Homo sapiens: one gene and its partners. The protein of the gene in region 5 interacts with the protein of the main gene of each other region in a pairwise test. Each region holds a gene or a part of one and is shown on either strand. Other genes may lie near its edges.

Region 1 (4,082 bases), on a different chromosome or scaffold from region 5:
TCTGGGGTACTCCTACATGAGCTAATAATACCAAAATAAGTGAGCCTAAATCTAATCTAGTCTTTAGATCCAAATACCAGTGTACAGGTGAAATATAGGAGCAAATTACATTAAAGGCTTTCAAACTTTGTTACATATTAGAATCACTGGGGAGCTTTTAAAACATCCTAATGCCTTGGGTACAATCAAGATCAATCAGCCTGGGTGCAGTGGCTCACACCTGTAATCCCAGCACTTTGGGAGGCTGAGGCAGATTTCCTGGGGTCAGGAGTTCAAGAACAGCCTGGCCCATATGACGAAACCCTGTCTCTACTGAAAATACAAAAATTAGCTGGGTGTGGTGGTACACACCTGTAATCCCAGCTACTTGGGAGGCTGTTGCATGAGAATCACTTGAGCCTGGGAGATGGAGATTGCAATGAAAAAAAAATCAATTAAATCACTCTCTGGGGGTGGGACTTTTAATACATCAATAACTTTTAAAACTTTCTAGGTCATTCTGATGTGCAGCTGAGTTTGAGATCTAATAAGTTAAAGATACTAAAAAGAAGCAATCGACCAAATCCAGAATGTGAGGCATTTTATAAAACAGAAGGTTCAAGTTCCTCAACAAATAAATGGCATTTTTACCAAAAGGAGTGGGAGGGAATGGGAACTGTCATAGATTAGAAGACTGAACAGACTTATCAAATAAATGCAAATGGTGAACCATATTCGGACCCCACTGAAAACAACAACTGTAAAAAGACTGTAAAAAAAAAAAACTCTAGAAATATTTGAGACAATTATTTGAAAATCAAGATAATGATATCAAGGAATTATTGTCAATTTTTTTGCGTGTGATCATGATACTATGATTATATTAAGATAAAAGTCCCTGTATATAAGAAATTGACACTGAAGTACTTGTACTTGTGAGTGAACTAAAATGTTTCCATCTGCAATTTGCTATAAAATGAAAGAGAAGAGAGGGACGAAATGAGGAAAAAAAAGAGATAAAGAGGGGGAGAGGGAGGGAAGGAAAGGAAGACAAAGAAAGGAGGGAGAGGGAAAGAAAGGAGAGAGGGAAAGAGGGAGGAAGTAAAAGGGAAGGAGGGAGACAAAAGGGAAGGAGGAGGAGAAGGGAAGGAAAGAGAGTGGAAAGGAGGGAAAAGAAGAATGAAAGAAAATGACCAAAAGATGATGGCTGAAGCTGAGTCATGGTTATATTGGTGTTCATTGTAACATTCTCTCTACAATTAAATGTGTTTAAATTTCTCTCCAAAATTTTAGAAAATTAAACAATGTCCTAACTTCTTTCCTTCCTGAATAATACAGCCAAAAAGCATTAAGGTAGGGTCAAGGAAGGCGAGAGAGAGCCACAGCCCAACCCAGAGTGAATCTGGAGCCCAAGTGGAATGAGGAGGGTGTCCACGGTGGGGAAGGGAGGAAGTCTATGGCAGGAAAACAACACTGATACATTTATATCATTTATTCCACAAACTCCATTTAGGTTTCACTACCTGGCCCCTACTTGGATCTGAGCCAAACTGATCACAGTGGGAAGGCACAAGATTGGGAAATTGGTTGCCAACACAAAGTATTTATCAAATCAGTAAATATACTGAAGATAAGGAAAGGAAAGTTTCTCATTAACAGAAAAGAGTTACAAGTCTATGAAAGAGCTAACCCTGTAAAAGTTGGGTTGAAATGAAGGGTGTTAGTATGAAGCCAGTTTCAGGCTAGGGCGTTCCTGGAAGCTCGAAAACTGGTGGATCTCCAGCACTAAGCAGGACATCAGATTTTTGCAAAAACCAGGGGTCCTAGTCCTTTTTCACTATTAAAAACTTCTATTGTTCCTCCTAATCTCCAGCCAAGGAAAAGGTACCCCCGAGTCTTAAAGCCTTTGAGAGTTTGAGTATCACAACGTCCAACACAAACCAGTTTTGGTCTTTGCTTTGGGATAGGCTCTTTTTCAGAGTATCTTATTTTTCCCTCCTAAAATATAGAAATCATCCATTACAAAGTGAATTGATGAATGACAGTAAAATTGAAAGCAACCGTACAAAAGCCAGTCACTAATGTGTCATCATAGTTATAAATAATAATAGTACCACTAATAAAAGCAAATCTTTAAATCATGCTTACTCTGCACCTTACCCATACGAATGCATTCAATCCTCACAACAACCCAGTGAGTTAGGGAATATTATCCCCATTTTACAAAATAGTAAAATGAGGCAGAGAGAGAGCTTAGGAACTAGTGAAAAGTCACACAGCCAGTAAGTGGCAGAGGCAGGATTTGAACCAGGTAATCTGACTCCAACGTTCTGGCTCTTGGCCAGTACCACAGAATAATTTAAAGACCTTGAAACTGACCTTGTTACCAGGCAGTGCAAAAATGTAACGGCTCCCATTCTCGAGGCTTGTCTATGTGACCCATGCATCCCGTCTCCAAATACCCTCAAGAACCGACCCGGACACTCGGTAACGGCCCTAAACAAGGGACACCCATATTGGGCTCTACGCAGGAACGCCGAGGACCACTTCATTCCGCCGCAGAGCGCCCTTCCCTCCCCCACGGCTTCTCGCAGGGGTCTCCCTCCTTGGGAGCCGAGGCTGCAGGAACTGGGGAGGGAAGGGCCTCTCTCCACAAACACACACACACACACACACACACACATACTCCTGCAAACGCACCTCTACCCGGGGACAAAAGAACTGCAGGACCGACAGGAGGAGAGCCGCGGGATGAGATTTAACCCCACAGTGGAAGGCCGACGCCGATTCACCCCATACTCACAAAGTGCTTGAAACTAGCAAACCACCCGCAGGGCGGGGCACAGAAGCCACTTCCGGGCCTCTCTAGCCACCTCCCTGACAGACTCTGTCGTTTGCTAGCTCGGCACCTTGTGTCCCCTCCCCTTTTGCTATTAAAGAGGCTTTTAAATTTTTATTTTTCCAGCTATAACTAAGGGAGAAAGGCAAGGTGCAGAATTATTTTCATAATTTGCTATATTTGCGAATAGAAGAGAGTAAAAAGAATCTAAATTATGTGTGCGTGTGTGGCACAAAGAAGCCCTGGAAAAATCGGAAAATTAATAATGGTGGTTACCTACGAGAGGTGAACGGTCAGAAACTGAGTGAAAACGGGGACAAGAGTGAGAAGGAAAGTGTTAGGGTGCATGTTTTAAATGTACTTTTAATTTTAGAGTTGATTGCATTGCCTAATTAGAATATGAATTCTAAATACATAAATTTTAAGGAACATGCTGCGTGGTTTACATAAAAAATCCAAGATAATCTAACACTCAAATTATGATGATTAATAAGAGAGTTTAGCAAGTTGGCTGGACTTTTTAAAATTCATGTTCACAATCACATTCTCCATCAAAATTATAAAAATAGAATTTTTAAAAGACATCTATCACAGAAGCAAATACTTACAAAAGATACCTGAATGGAAACATTAGTAACTTTATTCATTAGGGATAAGTAGTTGAAATATATACCTATATATATGAGACATATATATACACCTATATATATGAGACATATATATACACCTATATATATGAGACATATATATACACCTATATATATGAGACATATATATACACCTATATATGAGACATATATATACACCTATGTATATGAGACATGTATATACACCTATGTATATGAGACATGTATATACACCTATGTATATGAGACATGTATATACACCTATGTATATGAGACATGTATATACACCTATGTATATGAGACATGTATATACACCTATGTATATGAGACATGTATATACACCTATGTATATGAGACATGTATATACACCTATGTATAAGACATGTATATACACCTATGTATATAAGACATGTGTATACACCTGTATATGAGACATGTATATACACCTATATATATGAGAACTCAATATCATAAAGATATCATTCCTTCCTAAATTGATACACAAATCCAGTACAAAGCAAATCAAGATTCCAATTGTGCTCAGTGGAACTTGACTAGTTGATTTTAAATGTATATGGAATAATGAAAGAGTCACGAATCCGAGACATTTTTAAAACAAATGAAGGAGCTGCAGAAAC
Region 2 (3,500 bases), on a different chromosome or scaffold from region 5:
GACAAGAATACAAGGATGTCTGCTCTAACCACTTTTCTTTTCTTTTTTATTTATTTATTTACTGTTTTAGATGGAGTCTTGCTCTGTCACCCAGGCTGGAGTGCAGTGGCACAATCTGGACTCACTGCAACCTCTGCCTCCTGTGTTCAAGCAATTCTTGTGCCTCAGTCTCCCAAGCAGCTGGGACTACAGGTGCCCACCACCATGCCTGGCTAATTTTTTTTTTGTTTTTGTATTTTTAGTAGAGATGATGTTTCACCATGTTGGCCAGCTTAGTCTCAAACTCCTGACCTCAAGTGATCTGGCTGCCTCAGCCTCCCAAAGTTCTGGGATTACAGGCGTGAACCACTATGCCCAGCCTGCTCTAACCACCCCCCTTTTTTTTTGAGATGGAGTCTTGGTCTGTCGCCCAGGCTGGAGTGAAGTGGCGTGATTTTGGCTCACTGCAAGCTCTGCCTCCCGGGTTCACACCATTCTCCTGCCTCAGCCTCCTGAGTAGCTGGGATTACAGGCGCCCGCCACCAAGCCTGGCTAATTGTTTGTATTTTTAGTACAGATGGGGTTTCACCATGTTAGCCAGGATGGTCTCGATCTCCTGACCTCGTGATCCACCCACCTCGGCCTCCCAAAGTGCTGGGATTACAGGCGTGAGCCACCGCATCCAGCCTCTAACAACCTTTAATCAATATTCTACTGGAAGTTCTAGTCAGAGCAATTAAGCAAGAAAAAGAAACAAAAGGCACCTAAATTGGAAAGGAAGAAATACAACTAAATCTATTTACAGATAACATAATCTTATATGTTAAAAAAAATACTGAGGAAAGGAATCCACTAAAAATCTACTTGAATGAATGAGTTTAGCAATGTTGCAGGATACATGGTCAACATACAGAAATCAATTGTAATTTTATACATTTGCAATACACAATCAAAAAATAAAATTAAGAAAAACATTTGATTCATAATTGTATCAAAAAGAATAAAACCCTTAGTGGCCAGGCACGGTGGCTCACACCTGTAATCCCAGCAAGGTCAGGAGTTGGAGACCAGCCTGGTCCGACATGGTGAAATCCTGTCTCTCTAAAAATGCAAAAATTAGCAAGGAGTGGTGGTGGGCACCTGTAATCCCAGCTACTTGGGAGGCTGAGGCAGGAGAACTGCTTGAACCCAGGAGGTGGAGGTTGCAGTGAGCCTAGATTGTGCCACTGCACTCCAGCCTGGGCAATAGAGTGAGACTCCATCTCAAAAAAAAAAACAAAAAAACAAAACAAAACAAAAAACAGAATAAAACACTTAGGAATAAATGTAACAAAAGTGCAAAGCTTACACTCTGAAAACTATAAAATAATGTTGAAATAAATTAAAGAAGATCCAAATAAATGGAAAAACATCCCATGTTCACGGATTAGAAGACTTAACATTGTTAACATGGTACTATTCCCCAAACTGCTTTATAGATTCAGTGCAATTCCTATCAGAATCCCACCTGACTGTAGAAATTGACAAGCTGAATCTAGAATTCATATATTCTGCCTACACTGGGTTGTGAGAAAAAAGAAAATAGAATTCATATAAAATGCGAGGGTCCCAAAATACTGAAATAACCCTGAAAAAGAAAAACAAAGTAGGAAGACTCACACTTTCCAATTTCAAAACTTATTGCAAAGCAACAGTGATTAAGACAGTATAATATTGGCATAAAGACAGACATGTAGACCAATGGAACTAATGTGGGAGTCAGAAAGTAACCAATTTATCTATGGTCAACTGATTTTCGACAAGGGTGACAAGACCATTCAGTGGGAAAAACATAGTCTTTTCAACAAAGGGGGCTAGGACAACTGGATAGTCACATGCAAAAGAACCTTCCACTATACACAAAAATTAACTTAAAATGGCTCAAAGACCTAAGTGTAACAGCTAAAATTATAAAACTCCTATGACTCAATAATCAAAAGATGACCCAATTTTTTAAATGGGTGAAGGGATAGGTGTGGTGGCTCATGCCTGTAATCCCAGCACTGTGGGAGGCCCAGGTAGGCAGGTCGCTTCAGCCTAAGAGTTTAAGACCAGTCTGTAGACTCTATCTCTACAAATAACTAAACAAAACAATTAAATGATATAATAAAATAATTACAAATAATTTAAAAATTAGCTGGGCATGGCAGCATGCACCTGTAGTCCCAGCTACTTAGATCACTTGAGCCTGGGAGGTGGAGGGTGCAATGAGCCATGATCATGTCACTGCACTCCATCCTGGGTGAAAGGCCAGACCCCATCTCAAAATAAATAAGTTAATTAAGTTAAATAAAAAATGAGTAAAGGATCTGAATAGACATTTCTGCAAAGAAGATATACAATTGACCAATAAGCACATGAAAAGATGCTCAACATCATTAGTCATCAAAGAAAGGCAAATCAAAATCACAGTGAGCTATCACTTCTCACCCACTAGGCTGGCTAGATTCCAAAAACAAATGAGTGAATAATGACGTGTTGATGAGGATGTGGAGAAACTGGAACCCTCACATGCTGCTGGTGGGAATGTAAACCAGTACAGCTCGTTTGGTAAACAGTCAATTAAACAATGAGTTATCAGTAACCTAGCAATTCCACTCTTAGGTATATACCCAAGAGAAATGAAAACATATGAAAGAGAAATTAAAACATACGTCTACACAAAAACTTGCACATGAATACTTAGAGTGGCATTATTCATAAGCCAAATAATGCAAATAACCCAAATGTCTATCGATGGGTTAATGAATAAACAAGATATGGTATATTCATACAATGGCCACAAAAAGGAAAGAAATAGTTACGTGCTACAACTTGGATGAACCTTGAATATATTATACTAAGTGAAAGAAGCCAGACACAAAAGGCAACATATTATAAAATTCCATTCATATGAGAACTCAGAGCAGGGAATTCTACAGACACAGAAAGTAGATTAGTGGTTGCTTAGGACTGGGAGAGGGGATAAGAAGTTTGGCGAAGAGTTAGCTAAAGGGTGGGGGGTTTCTTCCTGAGGTGATAAAAATGTTCTAAAATTGACTGTGGTGATGTACAAATCTCTGAATAAATATACTAAAAGTCATTGAACTGTATGCTTTAAATGGGTGATCTTATATGGTATATGAGATTATATCTCAATAAAGGTTTTTTGTTTTTTTTTTTAAGTGTTTCCACTGACTGTTAAGGCAAGAGGGGGCATGTGTTGTCAGAGAAACTCTTGCTGGAAGGGTCAGGTTCCTAGGCTACCCACAAAGGATTCTGCCCCCAACACAGCCGCACCAATGACAAGCCAACATTGGTGCAAAGAGCTGCCGTGAACCACAGCCTAAATCTTTGTCTTAATGGGAAAACATATGAGGTCAGAAGTCAAGAAACTGGGGACATCTTGACCTGACCCCTCCCCACAAAGGTGGCCACAGGAGCCCAACCACCCCGGCAGTCTGAGTGAGACACGGGCTGCAGCAACCCACCTGCCCCTGAGC
Region 3 (3,500 bases), on a different chromosome or scaffold from region 5:
AATCCCACACCTCCCTCCAGCCCAGGAAGAGCTCCCTGCCTGGAGGCTACCACAGCTCCTTCGGCTCTTCCCTGACAACCTGCCAGCCCTGTGTTCATGAGCTCTCCTGGGTCCTCTGGGACCTGACCTGAGGCTCCCCACCACCAGAGCACATCCCTGCTCTCACTCCCCTCCCCATCAAAGATCCCAACTCGGGCCCAGCTCTCGCCCAGGTCACCAGGGTTCTCCCTGACGGTGCCTGGGGTGCAGCAGGAGGGCTCCCACCTTCCCACAGCTCCCTGTGGACCATGGCACCCTCCGCCTCTTCCCTCTGCCTCCAGGCCTCCCGGGAGGGCTCCTGTCCACATGGAAAGATGCAGGCCAGACACTGCCGGCTCCTCTTTACTCTCTGCTCCGGAGGGAGGCAGGAAGGAGTCTCAAGGGCCACCACAGTGCCTCTTCCCCCAAGACTCCAGAGCACCAGAAGTGGAACCCACACAGCTGGGGCTGCAAGCGTGGGGCACAGGTGAGGAGAAGAGAGTCACAAGCAGAGCCTAGGGCAGGCACTGAGAGGGGGCCACCTGCATAGCTCTGTGCCTGCCCAGGGCCTGGCTCTCTCACCCACAGAGGTGGCTGGTCCCACCCTATTTCACGGAGGTGGAGACCAGGGCTCTCCTGAGCAGCCTAACAAGAAGCAGCAATGACTACCGGCCACCCCTGCTCCCGTGGGGCCCCGCACTAGGTTTTTCTGCAGGCTCCTGGGGGTCCACTCATGGCCTCAGCTCACCTCACAGCAGGAGCCCTCTGCATGCAGCCCCCGCCTGAAGGACGGCTGTCCCGCACAGGCTCACCTCAGGGCTGCCCACTGCTTGGGGCTTGCCTGATGGGGGCACCCTGGGCCACCCAGCCTGAAGAGACCAGGCAAGATCTGGGGGCTGGAGCCCAGGAGCTGTGGACAGGCCCAGCCCCCAGCCTTGGCATGAGACGGCACCCAGGTAGCAGGGAGTGGGCCGTCTGCTGGGAGCTGCTCTGGGCTCAGCCACACTCACCTTCTTCCAGGTCATTTCGGGCAGCGGCCTCCAGAAGGACAACACTGGGAGGGAAGAGGACCTGCTTCAGGAGCCCTTGGCTGGCTGCCTCCTTCCGGGGACGCTCCCCAGGACCCTTCTTGCCCTGGGCCTCCTTCTCAGCCTGGGCCCACATCTTCACCTGCTGGGCGCGCCGCTTCTGGGCATGCTTCAGCCGCTCCTGTGTGCTCATCCTGCCCACCATGGGCATCTCTGCCAGCAGCTCCAGGTGCTCGGCCATGGCGGCGGCTGCTTGCCCACAGGGCTGCTCGGGGCACCAGAGTGGGGAGCTTGGGGGCCAGGCTGGGCCTGAGGGGTGGGGCAGCTAGCTGGACTGGCACCCTCGGGGGCATCCCCTTCCCAGAGCTTCGTGCCCTTGGCTGGGTCAGGAGGCCCCACACAATAACCAGGCCCAGGCAGCCCTGGGGGGCATGGGCCGGGGCAGGGAGGGCAGTGTGGGAGGGCACCCCAAACCTGCTCCCCAGGCCAGCCTCTAGCTGTCGACAAGCAGCGCCTCGCCTCCCTCTCGGGGTCAGGGTGCACAACCTATGGGAGGCAGCCCCGAGACCTGGCCGGCCTCAGTGCAGGGTCTGAAACTAATTACCCAGATAACAAGGTTCCAGCTTCCGGGCACCCTGCTGAGGGGGAAGGGAGGGCAGGGCCAACCAGCAGTGAGAGCCCCTGTGAGCCCCTGAGAGTCCTCTTTTCACCTTCTAGGCTCAGGAGCCTGGGTGGGGCCTGGGAGCAGCCATGACCCAGCCCCCAACCCCTCCCAGCTGTGTGCCGAGGTCAGTGCATCAGTACTAACGAGGAGGTGCAGCCGCTGAGGCTGGGGGAGGGCAGGTAGTCAGAGTCCTGGAGTCCTGGCCCCAGGGCCCAGGGGTGAGGCTCTCTAGGCAGCCAGGGCACCAAGGGCACAGGCGGGCCGGCCGCAGTGTCTTCAGGAGCACCTCCTCTTCCAGCAGCTGCTCACACCTGAGAAGTGGGGAACAAGGAAGCATATCAAGGCCGGCTTGAGGCAGGGTGGCCCGGGGGAGCCCCTGCCCTGGGCCTCAGGTGAGACCAGGCTTCCAGCTGTCTCAGGTCCTGCCCTGTGTGAGGCCCACCCTTTGTCCACAGAGAGCACTGCAGGTCAACAGTCCTGGGGGTACGGGGAGCTACTCTGCCCCCATTCTGCCCCAGGTTCAGAGAGGGGCGGGGGAAAGGCATGTCAGGCTCCTCCCACCCACCCTTTCCAGAAAGGGCCGCCCACCCCAGCGAGGCGTTCCCTGCTAGGCTGCTCCTCCAGGGCCAGGCGCTGCCCTAAGGCTGGGCAGGGTGAGGTCTCGTGGAACAGCCTTGAGGGCTTTGCAGGCTACTGCCTTCCAAGGGCAGGCCCCGCCTCCTGGGCCTCCACCTCTCCTGCCTTCCAAGGGTAGGCCCCGCCTCCTCCTGTCCTGACTGATACCCCAGCCTCTCACTGCCCAGTCTCTAGACCTCTTCCTTGATGGGCTCCCACAATGCCTCTGCCATCCTAGGCTGCAATAAAAGCCCCCACCTGGTGCCTGGCTTGAGGCCTATGGGGACAGACAGGCAGGCAGACAGCTTCGGCTGGGGCACAACCCTGCCTATGTACCTGCTATGGCCCTAGTCCTGCCCGACACACTAAGTGTGGTTGCTGGGCTGGCCACAGGCCTCACCTCAGAAGGCACTCTGTGCTTGGCCAGGCGCGGTGGCTCAGGCCTGTAATCCCAGCACTTTGGGAGGCCAAGGCGGGTGGATCACGAGGTCAGGAGATCGAGACCATCCTAGCTAACAGGGTGAAACCCCATCTCTGCTAAAAATACAAAAAAAATAGCTGGGCGTGGTGGCACGTGCCTGTAGTCCCAGCTACTCGGGAGGCTGAGGCAGGAGAATGGCGTGAACCAGGGAGGCAGAGCTTGCAATGAGCCAAGATCACGCCACTGCACTCCAGCCTGGGTGACAGAGCGAGACTCCGAGAAAGAAAGAAAGGAAGAAAGAAAAGAAAGAAGGCACTCCGTGCTCTGCAGAAGATGCCTGCCAGGAGTCCTATTCTCCACCCAGCCAGGCCTCATGGCCATCTACACACTGACCCAACTCTTCACTGCTGGACTTCTACCCAGGTGTTTCATAGAATGCCCCCTTCTTTCAGAAAGGGAACTGTCCTGGGCCAGGTCAAATTAAGCCAGTCAGGTCCTTCCTGCTCAGGGGCCCCCAATTTATCTGGGAGCCCCACTTTACAGGTTCAGCCTACTCTAGACATAGTCCCCCCCTGTAGGCCTAGCCTCAGAGGCTTCCTGAGGACACGGCCAATAAGGCCAGTGGCCCTGACCTGGCTTTCTGCCTGCCAAGTAAAGAGCTTTTCCAGGCAGTAACTCTCCCTCCGAGCAGCCTGCTCCTAAGCCTGGCCAGCTCTGTAGACCGCAGAGGCCAGGGCAAGCACACACTGGCCAG
Region 4 (3,500 bases), on a different chromosome or scaffold from region 5:
ATTAGCCCAGCATGGTAGCATGCGCCTGTAGTCCCAGCTACTCGGGAGGCTGAGGCAGGAGAATTACTTGAACCCGGGAGGCAGAGGTTGCAGTGAACCGAGATCACGCCACTGCACTCCAGCCTGGGCGACAGAGTGAGACTCTGTCTCAAAAAAAGAAAGAAAAAAGAAAAACGTATATAGTCAATGGACTGCTGAAATATATTTGCTAATAGATACAAAACTCCGCCGGGCACGGTGGCTCACACCTGTAATCCCAGCACTTTGGGAGACCAAGGTGGGCGGGTCACCTGAGGTCGGAAGTTCGAGACCAACCTGGGCAACATGATAACATGATGAAACCCCATCTCTACTAAAAATACAAAAATGAGCCAAGTGTGGTGGTGCGTGCCTATAATCCCAGCTACTCAGGAGGCTGAGGCAGGAGTATCACTCGAACCCAGGAGGCGGAGGTTGCAGGGAGCTGAGTTCGTGCCACTGTACTCCAGCCTGGGCGACAGAGCGAGACTCCATCTCAAAAATTAAAAAAATAAAAACATAAAAACTGGTTAATGTCCTATAGGGCCATAAAAGTATAATCTTTGAGGCTATCTTTTCTAATGTTGGAAATCAGACAGAAATTTCGAAGTTAATGTCTAACTTCACAGTGTTTGGGCTATAATTAAATAGTGAATAGAAAAGCCAAGTGCAGACACATTCTTGTATATCATTAAATGATTATCTGGTGAATCTTTTAAGCAATGATATTGTGAAGACAACGAATTCCTTCTCAAACTCTACTTCCAAGCAGGGCCAGGACCAGAGTGAGACATAAAAGTTGCCCAGGGTAAAAAATTTAAGGACATATTCATTTTTGGAGTCACACAAATAGTGCAGGACCCTGAGAGCGAGCACTTCTTTCAAGTTTGTACCCTAGGTGTCTCTTGCTTCACCTTGACACGTTCCCTGTTTCCAAGTTTTGAATGTTTTCTTAACCCAAATATAAATCTGGCAGTGCACTCACCTCTGGCTCTTTACTGATCTCAGGACAAAGCCCATTCTTTTTTTGGCATGGACAAGGTTGCTTATGTTCTGAACCCTCTCACCTACTCTACTGTCCTGCCGTAAGGAATGACTTCAAGATATAAAAATTGCTCACTATCATTTCTGGGACTTTGCATTTGCTGTTGCCAGAAGATAGCAAGCCCATAATTTTCCCCAACCCACCATTCAGTTGCCTAACACAAAACAGGTCCATTTTTGCTGCTCTTGCAATCCCTGCTACCATGTGAACAAGTCCAGGTTGCCAGCTAAAGGATGAATGACCACATAGATTTTCTGTCTCCTCAGACATCCTAGCCATCCCAGGCAAATGTGTGCTTTCCACAATATTTCATTACCTTCCGGCCATAACAATGAAGACAGAAGTCTAATAACTATTTATTAGTAGTGTATGATAAAGAAAATGATATAGACTGTAAGCGTGACTAAAAATTTAGTATTTCATCCATCCATCACTAAAGCAAACAAGCCTGATGAACATAATTTTCTTGAAAAACAACTGTCTTCATATTTCAAATCAGTCTAATCAAAAGTGCTGGAAGTTATTCAGAAGGGATATACATAGTCATTTTTCATTCTTGGTTTCTAAGATGTTGTTTCAGCTGCCCTTACCTGAGCTCCATGCTTTAATAAAATCTTCACACAAGAGAGATGACCTCCAAGACAGGCTTCATGGAGTGGGGAAACATGATCTGCCGTGATGATGTTCACAGCCCACCCCTGAAGGAGGGGAAACAGTCAGAGTAAGGGGTGCAAAGCAACAGTGCCCTGGGGCTGCTTTTCAGCCACCATTCCAGTACTATGACAAAGCTGACCTGGCTCAAAGTCAGATGTTACACTAAGGTGTTTATATTGACTTTAAAAAAAAAAAAATGCCACACTACTGGTGGGAGTGTGGTATGGTATAACCACTCAGGAAAACAGTTTGACTGTATCTATTAGAGCTGACAATGCATATGCCTATGACTCAGCAATTTGACTCTTAGGTATATATACATCTAGATAAATATACAAGAATATTCACAACAGCATTGGTCATAATAGTCAAAAACTGCAAACAAACCAAATGTCCATCAACAATGGACTGAATTAATTAACTTTGGTATAATCTTTCAGCAGAAAGATTACACCCAACAAATCATAATGGCAAGCACTACAAGGGTGATGCTTGCAAAAATAATGTTGAGCAAAAGAAGCAAAATCCAAAAGCATACACACTGAATGATTACATCAATTTAAAGTTCAAAATTAGGCAAAACTACCCCATATTGTTTCAGAAGACATAATATATAGAGTAAAACCATAAAGAAAACAAGGAAATCGGGATAATGGTTACTCCTGTGGAAGAGGGACAGGATTGTGTTCTAGAAAGCACAATAAGGGGAGGGATGGGTGAGTCTTTGGAGGAGCCAGCATTGTGCTATTTTTCCATTTCCTGACCTGGGGAGGCAGTCACATGGCAATATTCTCATCATCATCACTTTTTATTCAACTGCACACGTGTTTAAGTTCTTTCATGCTTATGAAATTTCTCAATTTTTTTAAAGTCAGCGTGGCCCAAATTGCTAAGTTTTAACAAGCAATTATTAAGTTTTAACATATTCACAAGTGGCTCTACCTTGTGAGACAATTAAAAGGAAATTTTCAAACTGCGAGGGAAAAGAAATAGACTGCTGCATGTACCTTTTAGGAAGCCTAAATGTACTTTCTTATTTTAGGAAATTGAAATGTACCTATTAACTAATATAATTGCTCTTTAAACATAAGTATTTAGTAACACACAGGATTTAATAATATTTGTAATAAAAATATCAGTTTCACCCAATTTTTTTTCTCAAAAAAACCCTCCTTTTCCTGACATTTAATTGTTTTTCTTAGATTTCCTAGCTCTATCATAGTTTTGACAAGGGGGTCAACAAACAGTAGCCTACAGAGTCAAATCTAGCCTACACCTGCTTCTGTAGCTAGGAATGGTTTCTACATTTTTAATGGTTTAAAAGAAATCAAAGGAATATTTTGTGACACGTGAAAATTTTATGAAATTCAAATTTCAGCATCCATAAGCAAAGTTTTATCAGAACACAGCCATGCCCATTCATTTACATATTGTCTACAACTGCTTTTCTGCTAAACAGCAGAGTTAGGTACTTCCAACAGAGACTGCATGGTTCGCAAGGCCTAAGATTCTTTTTTTTTTTTTTTTTTTTTTTTGAGACGATGTCTTGCTCTGTCGCCGAGGCTGGAGTGCAGTGGCGCGATCTCGGGTCACTGCAAGCTCCACCTCCTGGGTTCACGCCACTCTCCTGCCTCAGCCTCCCAGCCTAAAATATTTACTATCTGGTCCTTTACTGAAAAAAATTTGCCAACTCTTGGCCGGGTGCAGTGGCTCACGCCTGTAATCCCAGCACTTTGGGAGGCCGAGGCAGGCGGATCACGAGGTCAGGAGATCGAGACCATCC
Region 5 (3,500 bases):
GGTCCTCAACCTGCGCTGAACGTTAGAATCACCTGGAATGTTTAAAAAATAATCTCAGGCCAGGTGCAGTTGCTCACACCTGTAATCCTGTAAAAAAGTTGCTCACACCTGTAAAAGCACTTCAGGAGGCCAAGGTGGGCGGATCGCTTGAGCTCAGGAGTTTGAGACCAGTCTGGGAAACACGACAAAACCCCATCTCTACAACAAATAACAAAACTTAGCTGGGCATGGGGGTGCATGCCTGCAGTCCCAGCTACTCAGGAGGCTGAGGTGGGAAGATGGCTTGAGGCCAGGAGGCAGAGGTTGCAGTGAGCCACGATCACACACTATTGCACGCCAGGACGACAGACGGAGCCAGCCCCCGTCTGAAAAAAATTAAAATAAAAAGAATCCCAATGCCCAGGCTGTACCCAGAGGACCTCAATCAGCACCTGTGGGTGGGGCCCGGGCATCTGCATTTTCTAAAGCAACCTAGATGAAGCTCATGCACAGCTAGGGTTAAAGTGAGTGCACCAAAGCAGGATCTCCTGCACTGCAGCCACCTGAGCATCTCCAAACACACATCCTGACCCTGGAGGTCAGGCAGGCCTGACACGCTGCATTTCTAACCGTCTCCCAGGGACATTCTTAGTGACTCGAATGTGTAGCCAGGCTTAGGAGGCACAAGCCCAGGACTGTGGTTCTTAATGTGAGGTCCCCAGATCAGCAGCCTCAGCATCGCCTGAAATTTGTAAGAAATATAAATTCTTGGGTGGCATCCCAGGCCCAGAGACTCAGGGGTGGGGCTGGAAATCTGTGTCTTGACACACCTTCCAGGTGGTTCTTGTAACACTCAGGCTTGGGAAGCACTGGCATAGAGCAGCAGACAGAGGCGGGCCCATGTCCTGCCCAACTCAGACTCCACCAGCAGCAGAGAGAGCGACTCTCGGTGTTTTTGGAAAGCATTTGCACCAGCGAGCCTTCCCTGGGTCCAGAACAATACCCGTGACATTCATAGGTAGGAGGGAGATGGCACATGTTGAGAAGGAAAAAAATGTCATGACTAAATCATAGAGATGGGGAAGCTGAGGCTGAGGGAGACATGGCCTCGAACAAATCTGCAGCCTCAGGCTTGGGATAACAACTCTCACCCTACTGCCCTTCCAGACTCAACTCAGGCACTGCCTACCCCCAGAAGCCTCTGCCGCTCCTTCAGGGACACACACACCTGCCCTGCCCCTCCTCAGGTCCCTGCCCTGTGGTGCTCCCATTCAGGACCCCCACTGTGGCATGAGAAACCCTGAATTATTCCATATATCTCGGTTTTGCATCCCTGTTCAGACTCCTTATTCTTCCTGGTAGAACATAGGACATCCTATTTCTTGCATTTTCATTTTTATGTGTTTGTTTCTTTTTTTCCAATCTTCCACGTTACCACAAACTCTGTACTGCGTACATACTCAATGCTCAGCAAATACTTAAGGCTGATTCACTGAGGTTGGACCTGAGCTTTTCTGTCTTTGTGCCTTGAACACGGTCTGAACTTGGCAAATGCTTCTCCAATGACTGAACGAATCAAGCCAAGGAAAAGGGAGCAGTAAAAAGATAGTGAGGAATTAAGCAGACTGGAGGGTACTCATCTTTCCATGGGCCTTTCTTTGCACTTTGCAATGAATGCTACTCATTAAATCGTGGTCCAAAAATGCCTCCCAGTCATGACTGCTGGTATCGCTCCATTATTCACTGCATTCAACACCATCATCTTTCTCATATGAAACACTGGCAGTCTCTTAAGGAGCAATGACAAAGCCAACCACAAAACAAAACTGATCAAGGAATTAGAACAGGCATGTTTTAATGCTAATTGTAAAGGGAGACTGACCTGTGGACATGAGGGTCTCACGGAAAAACTTTCCTTTAACTACGTCCAATTCTAAGGTCTTGCAATGAAACAGGCATACGAAATAATGACGGTAAACAAAATTACCAAATACTACCGCATTTACTTGCACAGGTCATTCATTCCACAAATATTTATTGACCACCACGTGCCAGCACCATTTTAGTCACTGGGCACATGGCAGTGACCAGCATGGACACAAACCGCTTCCCATATGGAACTTACACTCCAGACCAGTGCTGCCTGCCCAATAAAGCTTTCTGCACTGATGGAATGTTCTGGATTTACATTGTCCAATATGGTGGCGACTAGTCCCAGGTGGCTGTTGAGCCCGTGAAATGTGGCTGGTACTGGTTCGTTGCCTGTTAGGAACCCAGCCACACAGCAGGAGGTGAGTGGCGAGTGAGTAAGCAAGCAAGTGAAGCTTCGTCTGTATTTACAGCCGCTCTCCAACGCTTGCATTACTGCCTGAGCTCTGCCTCCTGTGAGATCAGCAGCAGCATTAGATTCTCATAGGAATGCAGAGCCTACTGGAAACTGCTCATGCCAGGGACCTAGTTTGCACACTCCTTATGATAATCTAATGTCCGATGATCTGTCACTATCTCCCATCACCCCCAGATGAGACCGTCTAGTTGTAGGAAAACAAACTCAGGGCTCCCACTGATTCTACATGATGGTGAGTTGTATTATTACTTCACTATATATTACAATGTAATAATAATAGAAATAAAGCACACAATAAATAGAATGCGCCTGAATCATCCCAAAACCATCCCTCAACCCTGGGCGGTAGAAAAATTGTCTTCCATGAAACAGGTCCCTGGTGCCAAAAAGGTTGGGGACCATTGGTCTAGAGGACTCACCCATTGAGGCAGATGTAAAGAGAATGGTGGTGAAACAGTTTCACTGACTGGTACAGACAAATCATTCCTCTGCCTGCCTTCGGCTGTGCACCTATGACCCCTGTTATGCTCCAAGAGAAGTGAACACACATATCCTATGGCAGGAATACACCTTAGACTTCAGAGCAACTTCTATACATCTTACTAAAGTCTCACCCTAGGCCGGGCACAGTGGCTCACACCTGTAATCCCAACACTTTGGGAGGCCGAGGCACGCAGATCGCCTGAGTTCAGTTCAAGACCAGCCTGGCCAACATGGCAAAACACTGTCTCTACTAAAACCCAAAACATTAGCCAGGTGTGGTGGTGTATGCCTGTAATCCCAGCTACTCGGGAGGCTGAGGCATGAGAATGACTTGAGCCCAGGAGGCAGAGGTTGCAATGAGCCAAGATCACTCCACTGCACTCCACCTTGGGCTACAGGGTGAGACTCCATCTCAAAACAGATAAATAAATAAATAAAAACAAAAAAATAAAGTCTCACCCCCAAACCCACCTCCACAAGCTGGGAGCTGCTCTCCCAGTTGACCAGCAGAGGATGTTACCTCAGAAGACACTCACTTCTTCAGGAAGGACTGACAGGGTAGGGGTGAAAACATAGGCAGGCATGCCAAGTGGCAGCCCTTCCTGGAGCATGGAATCCATGCACCGACTGAGTAGGACCAGGCACACTTCTTCTTTTTCTTTTGAGATGGGGTCTGGCTCTGTCAGCAGGC
Region 6 (3,250 bases), on a different chromosome or scaffold from region 5:
ATCACCTGAGGTCAGGAGTTTGAGACCATCCTGGCCAACATGGTGAAACCCCGTCTCTACTAAAAATGCAAAAATTAGCTGGGCGTGGTGGCAGGTGCCTGTAATCCCAGCTACTCGGGAGCCTGAGTTGGGAGAATCGCCTGAACCCCAGAGGCAGAGGTTGCAGTGAGCTGAGATTGCGCCATTGTGCTCTAGCCTGGGTGACAAGGGCGAAACTCTGTCTCAAAAAAAAATAAAAAAATAAAAAAGTGATCTATATTGGCTGGGTATGGTGGGTCACGCCTGTAATCCCAGCACCATGGGAGGTTGAGGCGGGCAGATGGCTTGAGGCCAGGAGTTTGAGATCAGCCTGGCCAACATGGCGAAACCCTGTCTCTACTAAAAATACAAAAATTGGCTAGGTGTGACGGCGTGCGCTTGTAATCCCAACTACTTGGGATGCTAAGGCACGAGAATACCTCGAACCCAAGCAGTGGCAGTTGCAGTGAGCTAAAACCACACCACTCCACTCCCGCCTGGGTGACACAGCGAGACTCTTGTCTCAAAAAAGAAGAAAAAAACATGATTTATATCATTAACAACTATTGCACTTGCATTGTTAACACTGCCCGGCAAAGTGTCAGCTTTCTGCTCTGTCTGAATCATTTGAATATTAATGGACTATATGCTCTACAAGATGGTCTGGGTATATATATTTTTTTAAAATTAGTATTTCTATGGGGCTTTGTAATCCTATTTTCAAGTAAACTATTTTACAAATACTAAACATGTGCGTCTTTTTTTTTGAGTTGGGGTCTCAACTCACCCTGTTGTCCAAATTGGAGTGTAGTGGTACCAACATGGCTCACTGCAGCCTCAAACTCCTGGCCTCCAGCAATCCTTTGGTCTGAAAGCCCCAAAGGACTGGCATTTGGGGGTATGCGCAACAGTGCCCAGCCCAGCGTATGTTACATTTAAACATATGTTTTTAGGAAAACTTTCTATGAATACATAAATTTGATACTGGGCTTATTTCTTTTGCTTCTTTTTAACATTTTCTCACTTTTTTTTTTTTTTTGAGACGGAGTCTCGCTCTGTCACCCAGGCTGGAGTGCAGTGGTGCGATCTCGGCTCACTGCAAGCTCTGCCTCCCAGATTCAAGCAATTCTCCTGCCTCAGCCTCCCAAGTAGCTGGGACTACAGGCATGTGCCACCACGCCCAGCTAATTTTTTTGTATTTTTAGTAGAGACAGGGTTTCACCATATTGGCCGGGCTGGTCTCGAACTCCTGACCTTGGGATTCACCCACCTCGACCTCCCAAAGTGCTGGGATTACAGGCGTGAGCCACTGTACCCGGCCTATTTTCTCACATTTTAAGATTTTCTAGAGGCATTGCCTTGTCTTGCGAGAGAAAATTACCTTAGATTTCTCCTGGGATTTTTGTACTCATCTTCAATGTTCTGAACTTTCCATGTTTTTCCTAAAACACAGACCCGGAGAAAACACAGATCCAGAATTAGTATGAATTTATTTAAAAATCATTAGATTCTGTATTCATGGTACATGGTAGCCATGCCTGATTTATTCATCAAAGTATTTTTTGTCCATGTTCCAAATCAATGAACAGCATTGATGAGCTAGAAGCATTTGTTCTCTAATTCACTGGGAAGTAATATTGTCATTCTTACCTACAGAGGTCAGGTTCTTGAAGGTTTCCTGCATCACATCCCTGTAGAGATTCTTCTGGGAAGGATCCAGCAAAGCCCACTCCTCCTGGGTGAAGCTGACAGCCACATCCTCAAAGGCCACTGAATCCTGAAACATCTCACATATATAAAAGAGGACAGGTAAGACTAACAGCCCTGGAGGCCTATACTTTATTCCTAAGAAGTTCTCATGATACTGTGGACTCCAAACATTTATCCCATGACTTGGTCATCACACCTCTTACTTTCTGTCTATACTCACGTCCTCCCACAAACCAACCCTTTTTTTGTTAAGAGAGAGGGTCTTTGGCCAGTCGCGGTGGCTCACGCCTGTAATCCCAGCACTTTGGGAGGCTGAGGCAGGCAGATCACTTGAGGTCAGGAGTTTGAGACCAGCCTGGCCAACATGGAGAAACCCGTCCCTACTAAAAATATAAAAATCAGCCAGGCGTGGTGGTGGGTGCCTGTAGTCCCAGCTACTCGGGAGGCTGAGGTAGGAGAATTACTTGAACCCAGGAGGTAGAGGTTACAGTGGGCCGAGATCGCGTCACTGCACTCCGGCCTGGGCGACAAAGCAATACTCCATCTCAAAAAAATAATAATAAAATAAATAGGCCAGGCGCAGTGGCTCATGCCTATAATCCCAGCACTTTGGGAGGCCAAGGTGGGCGGATCACCTGAGGTCGGGAGTTCGAAACCAGCCTGACCAACATGGAGAAACCCTGTCTCTATTAAAAAAAAAAATACACAATTAGCTGGGCATGTTGGCACATGCCTGTAATCCCAGCTACTTGGGAGGCTGAGGCAGGAGAATCACTTGAACCCGGGAGGCAGAGATTGCGGTGAGCTGAGATTGCACCATTGCACTCCAGCCTGGGCAACAAGAGTGAAACTCCGTCTCGAAAAAATAAAATAAAATAAAATAAATAAAATCTATACTAATCAAGAGAAAATGGTATTAACAGATGGAAAGATAGACTAATGGAAAACAGCAGATTCTGAAAATAGTGAAACCACGACAAAGCAGGTATCACCAGCCAATTATGCAAGTGGTCCTCACTTACCAGAAGGAACAGGGACAGATGGTTACCTACAGGAGAACAAACAATCTTTGAAGCCCATCATCTCCATATGAATTAATTCTAGAGTTGCCTGTTACCGTGACTTCTTATGTTACCTTACCATGCATTTTCATTATGGGTTTCACTTTCTTATAACAGAAGAAACCCGTACTCAAGCCGTGTGTAGTGGCTCATGCCTGTAATCCCAGCACTTTGGGAGGCCAAGGCAGGCCAATCACTTCAGGTGAGGAGTTCAAGACCAGTCTGGCCAACATGGTGAAACTCCCTCTCTACTAAAAAACACAAAAATTAGCCGGGTGTGTGCGTGCCTGTAATCCCAGCTACTCGGGAGGCTGAGGCAGGAGAATCGCTTGAACTCGGGAAGCGGCGGTTGCAGTGAGCTGAGAGAGCGCCACTTCACTCCAGCCTGGGCGACAGAAAGAGACTGTCTCAGAAAAAAAAAAAAAAAAGAAGAAGAAGAAAGCTGCACTTGACCTCAACAG
Region 7 (3,500 bases), on a different chromosome or scaffold from region 5:
AAATATGATAGAAATGTTAAATGCAGTTCTAGTAAATCATCTAGTAAAATATCACCTCTTCCACCAGAAACACTAATAGCATGTACCACACATTGGGAATATTCAAAGTACTTTTACACATATTACTTCATTTAATCCTCATAAGAACCATAAGAGGTAAGGACTATCTTTGTCATGTTTTTACAGACAGAGAAACCTAGGCACAAAGGGGATGAATAAAATAAGTTGTCCAGGCCAGGTACAGTGGCTCATGCCTGTAATCCCACCACTTTGGAAGGCTGAGGTGGGTGGATTGCTTGAGCTCAGGAGTTCAAGACTATCCTGGCCAACATGGTGAAACCCTGTCTCTATGAAAAATACAAAAATTAGTGGGGTGTGGTGGTGTTGTGCCTGTGGGCCCAGATACTTGAGGGGCTGAGATGGGAGACGCTTGAGCCCAGGAGACAGAGGCTACAGTGAGCCGAGATTGCATTACTACACTGAGCCTGGGTGACAAAGTAAGACCCTGCCTCAAAAACAACAACAACAACAAAAAAACAAAAAACAAACAAAAGGCTAGGCGCAGTGGCTCCCATCTATAATCCCAACACTTTGGGAGGCTGAGGCGGGCAGATCACTTGAGGTTAGGAGTTCAAGACCAGCCTTGACAACATGGTAAACCCCATTTCTACTAAAAATACAAAAATTAGCCAGGCGTGGTGGCATGTGCCTGCTGTAGTCCCAGCTACTCAGGAGGCTGAGGCAAGAGAATCACTTGAACCCAGAGGCAGAGGTTGTACTGAACCGAGATTGCGCCACTGCCCTCCAGCCTGGGCAACAGAACAAGACCCCATCTCAAAAAAAAAAAAAAACATAAAAAACTTGTCACATACCTCAGTAGTGAAGCAGGAATTCAAATCCAGCCAGTCTGACCAAAGTCCATGCTCTGAATCACTATGCTACTGAATTGCCCATACTTACAAATAATTTGGTAACTCTTAATTACATCCAAGCCTATAAACAGACTTCTGGAAGTATCAGGTTTACAAAGATACTTGAAATTCTTAGATGAGATAGGCTACACATGCATACAAGCAATGCTGCTAATTAATTCTCAATGTGATTTTAAGTTAGAGCTCCAGAAGTAAATGGTAAAACATTAAAGGTGGAGTCCAGGTAGAAGTGGTCAGTGGCAATTTAAACTGCCGTATATTGTTTAAAGCTCTACATTCATTATCAACTATAATTGCTCAAAGTACTAATTTTGTCAGAAAATTGTTAGTTGTGGCTCTAAAATCACCTGGCAAATTTTTAAGCCATAGGATATCATAATGAATTGGCCTAGGAAATGAAAAACACACAGCAACCAAATCAATTTAAAGAAATTTTACCTCTGCTAACCTTGTCCGAAGCTGACCTGGTTGTTTCTTTGCAAACAATCTGATGACCTCTGGGGTTTTAAAGGCCTGGCTGATAGCTGCCTGAATAGCCTAGAAACACAAGAAGGCAAAAACTAACCAAAATAGTCCAACAAATCAGATATTGCAATAACTGATTGACGGATCCTTAATTTTTATCAAGGTTTACTGGTTCCTGTCATGGAAGCAATTACACAACTAAATGAAGATCTGGAAGGATATGTTGTGTATGCATAAACAGACACTCATCTAGAAGTTACACCTTGGGAGGCCAAGGCAGGAGGATTGCTTGAGCCCATGAGTTTGAGACCAGCCTTGGAAATGTAGCAAGACCCCATCTCTAAAAAAAAAAAACTAAAGGCCAGGCACAGTGGCTCACGCTTGTAATCCCAGCACTTTGGGAGGCCGAGGCAGACAGATACCTGAGGTTGGGAGTTCAAGACCAGCCTGACCAACATGGAGAAACCCCGTCTCTACTAAAAATACAAAATTAGCTGGGTATGGTGGCACATGCCTGTAATCCCAGCTCCTCAGGAGGCTGAGTAAGGAGAATCGCTTGAACCTGGGAGGCGGAGGTTGCAGTGAGCCAAGACTGCCCCACTGCACTCCAGCCTGGGCGACAGAGTAAGAATGCATCTCAAACAAAAACAAGAACAAACAAAAAAACAAAGTCTGTCCTCTGTCGCCTATATGTTATACTTACCAGCTGCATTCCACTTAGTTCATCTACCAAAGTCATATTTCCAGACATAATTTTCTTTAGTGAATCATTAAATTCACTTAGTTGCTCCAGAGTTTCCTTTTTGGTTTCTTCATATTCATCTGTATCAAGTTCCTCTCTGAAATAGGTGAACATCATGATATGGAAAAATGAAGAGTTCCAAGTGAAAAATGCAATCTTAATACTTGTACATTAGAGAAAGACTGAAGGGAAATATCAAAATGCTGATGGTGAATGTGTTCACATAGTAGTAGTGAGGGCATTTTCCTGCAATATAGTTACTTTGGTAAACATTTTTCTTTTACCAAAATGAGGATACTTAAGAAACCACATAATAAAGCAGGGTGCCGTAGCTCACACCTGTAATCCCAGCACTTTGGAAGGCTGAGATGGGCAGATCACCTGAGGTCAGGAGTTCGAGGCCAGCCTAGCCAACATGGTAAAACCCCGTCTCTACTAAAAATACAAAATTAGCCGGGCATGGTGGTGCATGCCTGTAATCCCAGCTACTCGGGAGGCTGAGGCAGGAGAATCGCTTGAACTTGGGAAGCAGAAGTTGCAGTGGGCTGAGATCTCGCCACTGCACTCCAGCCTGGGCAATACAGCAAGACTCTGTCTCAAAAAAAAAAAAAAAAGCTGCAATGAACTGTTGTGGTCCTTTGTGCAGGTAAGGCTGAAACTACATGCCAGAAGTTCAAGTAGTACCTTCTTAGCCTGACAGCAGGTAGGACTGATTTAAATACTAAAGACAAAGTAGGTGTTATTTCTACTTCAAGGAAGGTAAGTATTTTGCTCAAGTTCACATGCACTTAGTAGTTAACTGAATGACTTTCATTTCCCAGCCTTTATGACTCCAAAGCCTGCAATAAGTTTACTTCTCTAATAGACAAAGCACTGCAAAGAACACTACAGGGGAATGCAGAATCATCACACATGGGCCTGCATCCACGGAGCTAGCTGCAGAAAAAACGCCAGTTTCCAGCATAACAACATACAATTAAACTCTTACCTGCATTCCTCCAGATCTTGTAATTGTTGCATGAGTCTATCCAACTGTTCTTCTAAATTCTGCTTTAATTTGCTTGTCTCTGTCTTTCCTCTGGAAGCCATTTTAATCTCTATGTGAAACAATAAACCCACATACCATATGAAATTAACATACCAGTGCAATTTTTTTAAGTTTTATTTTTTGTAGAGACAGAGTCTCACTATGTTGCCCAGGCTGGTCTCGGAACATCTGGCCTAAAGTGACCCTCCCATCTTGGACTACCAAAGAGGTGGGATTATAGGCATAAGCCACCACACCCAGTCCCTAGTGCAATTAAAAATATGCAGCTGCGGCCAGGCGCCGGTGGCTCAGGCCTGTAATCCCAGCACTTTGG

Evidence for each region.
Region 1: the proteins of JPH3 (region 5) and ZKSCAN3 interact in binary tests that used the Homo sapiens proteins (3 or more experiments, as listed by UniProt).
Region 2: the proteins of JPH3 (region 5) and ANKRD13D interact in binary tests that used the Homo sapiens proteins (3 or more experiments, as listed by UniProt).
Region 3: the proteins of JPH3 (region 5) and PPP1R16A interact in binary tests that used the Homo sapiens proteins (3 or more experiments, as listed by UniProt).
Region 4: the proteins of JPH3 (region 5) and ASB9 interact in binary tests that used the Homo sapiens proteins (3 or more experiments, as listed by UniProt).
Region 6: the proteins of JPH3 (region 5) and ZNF20 interact in binary tests that used the Homo sapiens proteins (3 or more experiments, as listed by UniProt).
Region 7: the proteins of JPH3 (region 5) and LZIC interact in binary tests that used the Homo sapiens proteins (3 or more experiments, as listed by UniProt).

Annotation. Positions count from the first base shown.
Region 1 is NC_000006.12:28,348,665-28,352,746, reverse strand, and holds the start of ZKSCAN3 (zinc finger protein with KRAB and SCAN domains 3), read right to left. Parts: upstream 2,801-4,082; 5' UTR 2,680-2,800; exon of another isoform or gene 2,359-2,679; intron 1-2,358. UniProt on the Homo sapiens protein: Transcriptional factor that binds to the consensus sequence 5'-[GT][AG][AGT]GGGG-3' and acts as a repressor of autophagy. Specifically represses expression of genes involved in autophagy and lysosome biogenesis/function such as MAP1LC3B, ULK1 or WIPI2.
Region 2 is NC_000011.10:67,292,303-67,295,802, reverse strand, and holds part of ANKRD13D (ankyrin repeat domain-containing protein 13D), read right to left. Parts: intron 1-3,500. UniProt on the Homo sapiens protein: Ubiquitin-binding protein that specifically recognizes and binds 'Lys-63'-linked ubiquitin. Does not bind 'Lys-48'-linked ubiquitin.
Region 3 is NC_000008.11:144,494,982-144,498,481, reverse strand, and holds part of PPP1R16A (protein phosphatase 1 regulatory subunit 16A), read right to left. Parts: exon of another isoform or gene 2,022-3,500; 5' UTR 1,288-2,021; coding exon 1,029-1,287; intron 506-1,028; exon of another isoform or gene 487-505; coding exon of another isoform or gene 265-486; exon of another isoform or gene 1-264. UniProt on the Homo sapiens protein: Inhibits protein phosphatase 1 activity toward phosphorylase, myosin light chain and myosin substrates.
Region 4 is NC_000023.11:15,253,084-15,256,583, forward strand, and holds part of ASB9 (ankyrin repeat and SOCS box protein 9), read right to left. Parts: intron 1,762-3,500; coding exon 1,654-1,761; intron 1-1,653. UniProt on the Homo sapiens protein: Substrate-recognition component of a cullin-5-RING E3 ubiquitin-protein ligase complex (ECS complex, also named CRL5 complex), which mediates the ubiquitination and subsequent proteasomal degradation of target proteins.
Region 5 is NC_000016.10:87,609,008-87,612,507, reverse strand, and holds part of JPH3 (junctophilin-3), read right to left. Parts: intron 1-3,500. UniProt on the Homo sapiens protein: Junctophilins contribute to the formation of junctional membrane complexes (JMCs) which link the plasma membrane with the endoplasmic or sarcoplasmic reticulum in excitable cells.
Region 6 is NC_000019.10:12,134,101-12,137,350, forward strand, and holds part of ZNF20 (zinc finger protein 20), read right to left. Parts: intron 1,805-3,250; coding exon 1,669-1,804; intron 1,461-1,668; coding exon 1,400-1,460; intron 1-1,399. UniProt on the Homo sapiens protein: May be involved in transcriptional regulation.
Region 7 is NC_000001.11:9,933,392-9,936,891, forward strand, and holds part of LZIC (protein LZIC), read right to left. Parts: intron 3,237-3,500; coding exon of another isoform or gene 3,229-3,236; coding exon 3,128-3,228; intron 2,237-3,127; coding exon 2,101-2,236; intron 1,470-2,100; coding exon 1,371-1,469; intron 1-1,370.